2 separate regions of the Homo sapiens genome follow, and region 1 is linked to region 2. Evidence: fine-mapped expression QTL. A gene starts in region 2. The other region holds a variant in brackets. All regions are shown on one strand. Distances are from middle to middle. Region 1 has its middle 11 kb from the start of PSMB4. Region 2 holds the start of POGZ (pogo transposable element derived with ZNF domain).

Evidence for each region. PIP is the estimated chance that this variant, and not a neighbour inherited with it, causes the effect. A credible set is the group of variants that fine-mapping cannot tell apart.
Region 1: its variant is the best candidate, but not a certain one, in a credible set for the expression of POGZ in whole blood (INTERVAL, PIP 0.50).

Annotation. Positions count from the first base shown.
Region 1 is chr1:151,386,448-151,390,838 of GRCh38, forward strand. No RefSeq gene overlaps it. Among named protein-coding and RNA genes, the nearest start is that of PSMB4, 11 kb to the right of the region's middle. The variant A/G (reference allele first, on the strand shown) is at 2,228.
Region 2 is chr1:151,457,587-151,461,977 of GRCh38, forward strand. POGZ (pogo transposable element derived with ZNF domain) reads right to left here and starts at 1,908. Exons shown (of 19, transcript NM_015100.4): 1 at 1,566-1,908. RefSeq lists silencers at 1,009-1,058, 1,249-1,298 and an enhancer at 2,129-2,178.

The sequences.
Region 1 (4,391 bases), 71 kb before region 2:
TAACATTATAAAGATGGAGAACAGACAGTGGTTGACAGGAGTTAAGGGGGTGTGGGGTTGGGAAGGAAGTGCATGTGGCTGTAAAAGAGATCCTTGCAGTGATGGAAATGTTCTATATCTTGACTGTGTCAATGTCAATATCCTGGTTGTGATAATGTACTATAGTTTTGCAAGATGTTATCAATTGAGAGAAACTGTGTAAAGGGCAATCTTTCTGTTATTTCTTACAACTTCATGGGAACCTACAATTATCTCAAAATACAAAGTTTAATTTAAAACATGAGAACAGTAATTTATTTATTTATTTATTTTTTCCTCTCGAGACAGAGTCTCGCTCTGTCACCCAGGCTGATCTCAGCCTGGGTGTGATCTGGGCTCACTGCAACCTCCACCCCGGGGTTCAAGCAATTCTCCTGGCTCAACCTCCCAAGTAGCTGGGATTACAAGTGCCTGCCACCACACCCATTTAATTTTTTTGTATTTTTGGTAGAGACGGGGTTTCACCATGTTGGCCAGGCTGGTCTCAAACTCCTGAGCTCAGGTGATCCACCCGCGTTGGCCTCCCAAAGTGGTGGGATTACAGGCATGGCCCACCGCACCCAGCCGAGAACAGGAATTTCTACCTATATTTCCTTCCTTACTGTGTTGTGTGTGTTTGTATGTGTGTGTGTTTAATTTGTAGCATTTGCCAGTTTCTGTGGTGTAAATACTCCCACTACAGCTGTTTTCAAGCTAACATTGTGATACCACAAAAAATGGAATTGGGAAGGCACAATCAAGATTAACAAGCCAGTTTAGACCAAGACAATTTTTCTGCCCTATTAGTTGGGCACAAGTTAGAAAGGCTGATAGTATCTCATGTTGGAAAGGTGAGAGAGAAGGGCCCTCATGCATTATTAATGGCATATGCATTGAAGTGCCCTTGTTTGAGGGCAATGCTGTTAGTAACTTTTAAAATATGAGATGTCATACTTTTTGACTGAAAATACAACTCTTGTAGGATTCTATTTTATAGAACTACTTAGGTGCATAAATATACAAAAATAACTGTCATTGCAGCATTATTTGTAATAGTGGAAACAGAAGACTTTTCATTAATAAGAGAATGGTTAGGCCAGATCCAGTGGCTCACACCTGTAATCCCAACATTTTGGGAATCCAAGGCAGGAGGATCGCTTTAGCCTAGGAGTTGGAGACCAGCATGGGCAACATAACAAGACCTTGTCTCTACTAAAAAAAAATAATAATAATTAGTCTGGCATGGTGGCACACCTGTACTCCCAGCTACTTGGGAGGCTGGGGCAAGGAGGATTGCTTGAGCCCAGGAGATTGAGGCTGCAGTGAACTGTGATCACACCACTGCACACCAGCCTGGGTGACACAGCAAAACTCTGTCTCAAAAAAAAAAAAAAAAAAAGCACTTCGGAGGTCGAGGGAGGCGGATTGCCTGAGCTCAGGAATTTGAGACCAGCCTGAGAAAAATGGTGAGACTCCATGTCTGCAAAAGATATAAAAATTAGCTGGCTGGTGGGCGCCTGTAGTCCCAGGAACTGGGGAGGCTGAAGTGGGAGGATGGCTTGAACCTCTGGGAGGCGGAGACTGCAGTGAGCCGTGACCCACCACTGCACTGCAGCATGGCCAACAGAGCCAGACCCTGTCTCAAAAATAAAATAAAATAGGCCAGGTGCAGTGGCTCACACCTGTAATCCCAGCACTTTGGGAGGCCGAGGTGGGCGGATCACCTGAATCAGGAGTTTGAGACCAGCCTGACCAACATGGAGAAACCCCGTCTCTACTAAAAAATACAAAATTAGCTGGGCGTGGTGGCGCATGCCTGTAATCCCAGCTACTCAGGAGGCTGAGGCAGGAGAATTGCTTGAACCTGGGAGGCGAAGGTTGCAATGAGCTGAGATCGCGCTATTGCATTCCGGCCTGAGCAACAAGAGCGAAACTCCATCTCAAAAATAAATAAATAAATAAATAAAATAAAATAAATAAAAATTAGCCAGGCATGGTGATGCGAGCCTGTGGTCCCAGCTACTCAGTAGGCTGAGGCAGGAGGATCACTTCAGCCCGGGAGGTTGAGGCTGCAGTGAGCCATGGATTGCACCACTACACTCCAGCCTGGGTGACAGAGTGAGACCCTGTCTCAAAAAGAAAAAAAATGGTTAAATAGTTCATAATATATCTGTGCTGTGGAATATTGTGAAGCAATTACAACAAGTTA[A/G]GTAGACTATACAGGGGAGGAGGGCCAAGACATTTGAGAGCAAAAAGCAGGCTGCCAAACTGTATATAACACGATTCCATTCCAAAAAATAATTCTGTTTGCATGTGGATAAAAACAGTCTAGAAAGACACAAGATAAAAATGAAGGTTACTTGGGAAAAGAGTGAAGTTGGGTAATTTTTACTTTGTATATTTATTTATTTGGGAGAGTTTTGCTCTTGTTGCCCAGGCTGGAGTGCAATGGCGCTATCTCGGCTCACTGCAACTTCTGCCTCCCAGGTTCAAGCGATTCTCCTGCCTCAGCCTACCAAGTAGCTGGGATTACAAGCACCTGCCACCACGCCCGGCTAATTTTTGTATTTTTAGTAGAGACGGAGTTTCACCATGTTGGCCAGGCTGGTCTCAAACTCCTGACCTCAGGTGATCTGCCCACCTCGGCCTACCAAAATACTGGAATTACAGGCATGAGCCACCACGCCCAGCCTTATTATTATTATTATTATTATTATTATTATTATTATTATTTTATTTTATTTTATTTTTTGAGACAAAGTCTCGCTGGGTAGCCCAGGCTGGAGTGCAGTGGTGCAATCTCGGCTCACTGCAACCTCCACCTTCTGGGTTCAAACGATTCTCCTGCCTCAGGCTCCCAAGTAGCTGGGACTACAGGCGCCCGCCACCACGCCTGGCTAATTTTTTTATTTTTTTATTTTTAGTAGAGACGGGGTTTCACTATGTTGGCCAGGGTGGTCTTGAACTCCTGACATCGTGATCTGTCCGCCTCAGCCTCCCAAAGTGCTGGGATTACAGGCGTGAGCCACCGCGCTCGGCCGTACCTGTCCTTCTTGGGAAGGCTTTCCAGGTATTTGAAGGGACTTAGGTGTTGTCATCTAAGCTGTCTCTGCATTAGGCGGCACCCCAAGCTCAGTAATGCTGTGGTCCCTGCAGCCTCATAGAGTACCACCTTGGTGGTCCTGAATAAGAGCCAAAATAATTCTCTGGATTACCAGGTAGAAATTCCTATTCTCTTCTTGTATTTTCTTCCAAACAAACAGAGTCTCTCTCAAAGTCTCAAAGCCATTTGTAGTGGCATAAGGATCTTGCCTGTGAATAGCCACTGCTCTCCAGCTTGGGCAACATAGTGAGAACTCATCTGTCAAAAAAAAATTTTATAGTAATGCTGAAATCTAAAATCGTATTATAACCTCTCTCAACCCACCATTTCCCTTTCCAGGGACCAAGTTACTCCCTTCCTCCCCTTTCCCCAGGAAAGCCTACTTCCTGCTTTAATTCCATTATAATTGGCAGATTTCATTTATTTTTATTTATTTATTTTGAGACGGAGTCTCGCTCTGTCGCCCAGGCTGGAGTGCAGTGGCGTGATCTCGGCTCACTGCAAGCTCCGCCTCCCGTGTTCTCGCCATTCTCCTGCCCCAGCCTCCCGAGTAGCTGGGATTACAGGCGCCCGCCACCACGCCGACTAATTTTTTGTATTTTTAGTAGAGACGGGGTTTCACCGTGTTAGCCAGGATGGTCTCGATCTCCTGACCTCGTGATCCGCCCGCCTTGGCCTCCCAAAGTGCCGGGATTACAAGCATGAGCCACCACGCCCGGCCGCTTTCATTTATTTTTTATTGCTGGAAAATGTTTCAGAAGTTCCTTACTTTTTTCCCAGAGTGTCATTATAAGTAAGACTATATAAAACTCATTTTCAACTGCCACTATGACTCAATTTTACACACATGCGCGCGCATCCCCCACCCTCGCCTGCCCACATTCTTAGTGTTGTTTTGTGTGTTTAAATTAGCGCAGATGGTACCATATCATATATGTCATTCTGTGGTTTATCTGGTTCACTCAACAATGTGTTTGATATGTTAGGTTCTTTCCTTTAAGCTACCTTGTAGTATTCTTTTGTAATAATATACTGCATTTTATCTACTCCCCCTTGATGAGCATTTAGACTGTTTCTATTTTTTTGCTATTACGAACAATGCTCTGATGAACATTCTTGAATGTTTCCTAACGTGTACATGTGAGTGTCTCTATGTTATAGGTTTATTGGGTAATTTAGCATGTGTAATTTTCAGTTTTATTAGGTGCTATCAAGTTTTTTTTTTTTTTTTTTTTTGAGACAGAGTTTCACTCTTGTTCCCCAGGCCGGA
Region 2 (4,391 bases):
CCTGCCCCCTCCGTTTCCCTTTCCTCTAGTTGGGTAAATGCCTACAGAAGTAAAACCCGGCCGGGCGCGGTGGCTGACGCCTGTAATCCCAGCACTTTGGGAGGCCAAGGCGGGCGGATCACCTGAGGTCAGGCGTTCAAGACCAGCCTGGCCAACATGGTGAAACCTCGTCCCTACTAAAAATACAAAAATTAGCCGGGCGTGGTAGCACATGCCTGTAATCCCAGCTACTAGGAAGGCTGAGGCAGGAGAATCACTGGAACCCGGCAGGCGGAGGTTGCAGTGAGCAGAGATCGTGCCACTGCACACCAGCCTGGGCGACAAGAGTGAAACTTCGTCTCAAAAAAAAAAAAAAAAGTAAAACCCCATTTCTGTGGAGTTTTGAGCGGCGGTAAGAGGTGTCTACGGGCTTGGAAGGACGGGCTACACCGCTTGCATCAAGACGGCGGCTGCTGTGAGATAGTCCAACTGCATCTTAGTTTCCATTTCGAAAATGAGACTGGCCACTAAATGACTCTAAGGACTCATCAGCACTACCTTTTTCTGAACTAAGAATGTCTAAGACAAGTGCTACTAGCAGTTTGAGAGAATCCCACATCTGGAGAGGAAGGAAATAAGAACAACACGCAGAAAGACGGAAAACAAATAGATCAATGACAGTACTCCTTTGCAAAAGGTGCCAAGAATCTAAATAAAATAGTCCCCGGGATAAACATGGCGCCCACCGCGGCAGGACATAATCACCAGAAAATAAAGATTCCCCGCCTCATTCCATTTTATAAATCACGGCGCCATCCCAAAAGAAATTTGGGGACCGAGGGAGGAGACTTCGTAAACTAGCTGCAGTGCACTAAGGCTTAGGATGTACTATTAGACCAAGCAGAGATTACATAACACAAGGGATCGGCTCAGCAATCACTCATTTTCCTCCTCCCGCTCAAAACGAGCGCCCCACTCCTTCTCGGAGCGGGAATGGGGCGGGGAGGGCCGCGCACCCCCACCCCCAGGGGCCGCTCCGCCGCCGCCCGCCCCTCCGCCGCACGGCCTCGCCCCCTCGCCGGCCCCTCCCGCCGCGCCCCGCCGTCTCGCCACCGCCCGCGCCCCCGCCCCCGCCCCTTCCCCAGCGGGCCACCGCCCGCGCCCGCGCCGCCCACTCCTCCGAGACGCCTCGCGCCGAGCGTGCGTGTGGACGTCGGGCTGTGTGCGGGGCCGTGGGGCGCGAGTGCGCGCGCGCGCGCCGCGGCGGGCGCCGGGGGGCGGGGGCGGCCGGCCAGCCGGCAGGCAGGGACCTCCGCCGCCGGCCCTTCGCGCGGCTCCCGCGGCCCGGGGCGCACGCACACACACTCGCGCTCGCGCGCCGCACCCCGCGGCCGCCCCTGCCGCGGGCCGCGCCGCCACTCGCGGTGGGCGGGGGCGCGCACCGCCGGCCCCCCGCCCCCACCCCCGCGCGTACCGGCCCCATCCCCCTCTCATTGTCTCGCCTCTGAACGCCTCGCCGAGCGAAAAGATAACGGAACCCCCGGGAGCAGGGGGTGGGGAGAGAGAAGGCTCGCTCGCTCACTCACCTCCTGTGGTCGTCGCCGCCGGTAGTCTGACCCGAGGAAGGCGCCGTCGCCTTAAAGGGACCTTACACCCGGCGCCAGAAGGGGGTGGGAGCAGGGGGAGGGGACGGGGGCTTGGGGGGAGACGAAGAAGAGGTAACCGTTGAAAGCTCGTCTCCCCAAGGGTGAAAGGAAGCCTCCCTCGGGTTCGAGTGATTCGGGGTGGATTTTTTTCCCGAGGGGGGCGGGGGGGCCCCGAGGGAGGGGGGTGGGGGGGCCAAGGAATGCGGCTCCGTGTACGGGAGCTGGCGCGGGGGAGAGAGACGCCGACTCCCCCCACCGACCCTCTCGCCCCGCGGAGGGATACGGCTCGTCACTTCCGCCCTCCCCTTTTTCACGGCCTCCCAATTGGTCGGAGCGCGCTGCACGTCATGGGCTCATCCAAACCCCTGCCCGGGCTTCTTTTCTAGTCAAGTTTGGCTGGGCCTGCAAATAAATAAATAAAGGAAAACATTTTTTGTAATGAAAAAAGAATAATTAGCTTCAGAAGCTATATCTAAATTTTGGTGAGAAAAATGAGACTTCCAAAGAAAATATTCCCCAATTTACTTGCCAAGAGTTTCCAAGGAAGTGTTGGGAGGCTCCCCCACTTTCCACTCAAGGCTTAGACCCAGTCAAGAGGGAGACTTCATGACACAGGCCAGGTGGTGAGGCCCAGTGGCACCAACAACTGTCATTGGAACAAAGAACAAAATGGCACTCACTCTTTCTCAAGAGACACTCGGCCAAGTAACCTTGTGGCTGCGGCCTTGTTTAAGTGAAGAACTTTTAAAAGCCATTTTGATCCTCAAGCCCTTCTGGATCCTGGAAAGAAGTGGCACACGATTGTTAAAGCGATTATTGTGATGGAAACTGCTTTGCTCCCATTGTGAGTAGATTCAGCAGAGATCCCCAGTTCCAAGAAACCACACACACTCCACATCCTTATGCTTTTTGCTCCAATCAAGGCTGAGATGGGTTGGCTCAAAGAAATTGGTTAGTCCACTCAAACGACCATCCACCTGTTTATTCTTCCCCAGACAAAAACTACCTCTTTTCAGGTAGCTAAGAAATTTTGTCCTTTATTGCCTTCTGAGATTATAAAAATGTAATATTTTCCTTGAATATTTGAAAATGTTTGCTATTTAAGCAATACACAAATATTTGCTTCAAACCAAATGTGAAATCAAGGTACTTGGTGCAGAAAGGGGAAATCCAGAACTATGTTTATTTGTGCTCTTTATATACACACTCCATTCAAACCACCAGACTGAAAATAGGCAGTGGAAGTAGGCATTCCAAATTGTATGCACCTGCCCGTGTGAGTGTGCACATGTGCATACACATACACACACTGCCACCACCCAGTTTCATTCCATTTCATACCAAAACCATGTGAGTGATTTCCACTAGTGTAGGATGCTTAGGAAGGACTTCATTATTTGAATGAGAAGAATCACTAAATCCTTCTGAAAATACTTCTGAAGACTTTCCAGACCTGATCTGGAGAAGCCCATATTAGGATTATGGGATCAATCACCAAAAGACTACATGAAACTCAAATCCTATTTTATACTGTCGTGTAATTAGTATAATTCATTATATATGTTATATTTACATTATGTATATTACGTTATTAACCTTTGAAAAATTCCAACATATTTCCCCATGCCCTGTCAATTTATTCTCCCAGCCAATGAGATCTAGCGCAGACTATGCCATATACCGTTGACCAGTAACTGTTAGCATGCTTTATTGAAAATGGATCATGCATCCATTCATTCATTCAATGAATATTTATTGGGGGCTGGGCATGGTGGCTAACACCTGTAATCCCAACACTTTGGAAGGCCAAGGGAGGAGGATCACAGCAGTCTGAGGGCAGCCTGGGCAACTTAGCAACATCCCATCTCTACAAAAAAAAATTTTTTTTTTTTAAACAGAGTCTCGCTCTCTCCCCCAGGCTGGAGTGAAGTGGCGCGATCTCGGCTCACTGCAACCTCCGCCTGCTGGGTGCAATTCTCCTGCCTCAGCCTCCTGAGTAGCTGGGACTACAGGCGTGCGCCACGATGCCTGGCTAATTTTTTCTGTTTTTAGTAGAGACGGGGTTTCACCAAGCAGGCTGGTCTCGAACTCCTGACCTCGTGATCTGCCCGCCTCCGCCTCCCAAAGCGCTGGGATTACAGGCGTGAGCCACCGTGCCTGGCCCCAAAAAATTTTTTTCATTAGCTGGTTGTGGTATTCCTAGATACTTGGAAGACTTGGGAGGATCACTTGAGGCCAGGAGTTTGAGACTGCAGTGAGCTATGATGACACTACTTGCACTCTAGCCTGGGAGGGACAGAGCAAGATCCTGTCTCAAAAAAAAAAAAAAAATTATTGAGCACATGTACTAGGCACTGTTTTAGGTGCTGGGAATACAGCAGCAACAACAACAACAAATACCTGAATCTGTGGGATTTATACTCTAGAAGGAAAGAGACATAAAATATACACATAAACAAATTGTTCTATTGTCTATTGTTAAATAACAAATGACCCCGAACTTAGTGGCTTAAAACAACAATTTCATTACCTCTCATGGTTCTGGGAGGTAATTAGGCTCAGCTAAACAGTTCTCACTTGGGAGTCTCGTATGCAGTGGCTAGGGCTGAAGTAATCTCAAAAGCTTCCTTACATGTCTGGAAGTTGAGGTTGACTGTTGGCTTGGACCGCAGCTGGGGTTGTTGGCAGACCATTTACAAGTGGCTTCTCCATGTAGCCTGGGCTTCCTCATATCATAGTGGCTGAGTTCCAAGACTGAGTGCCCCA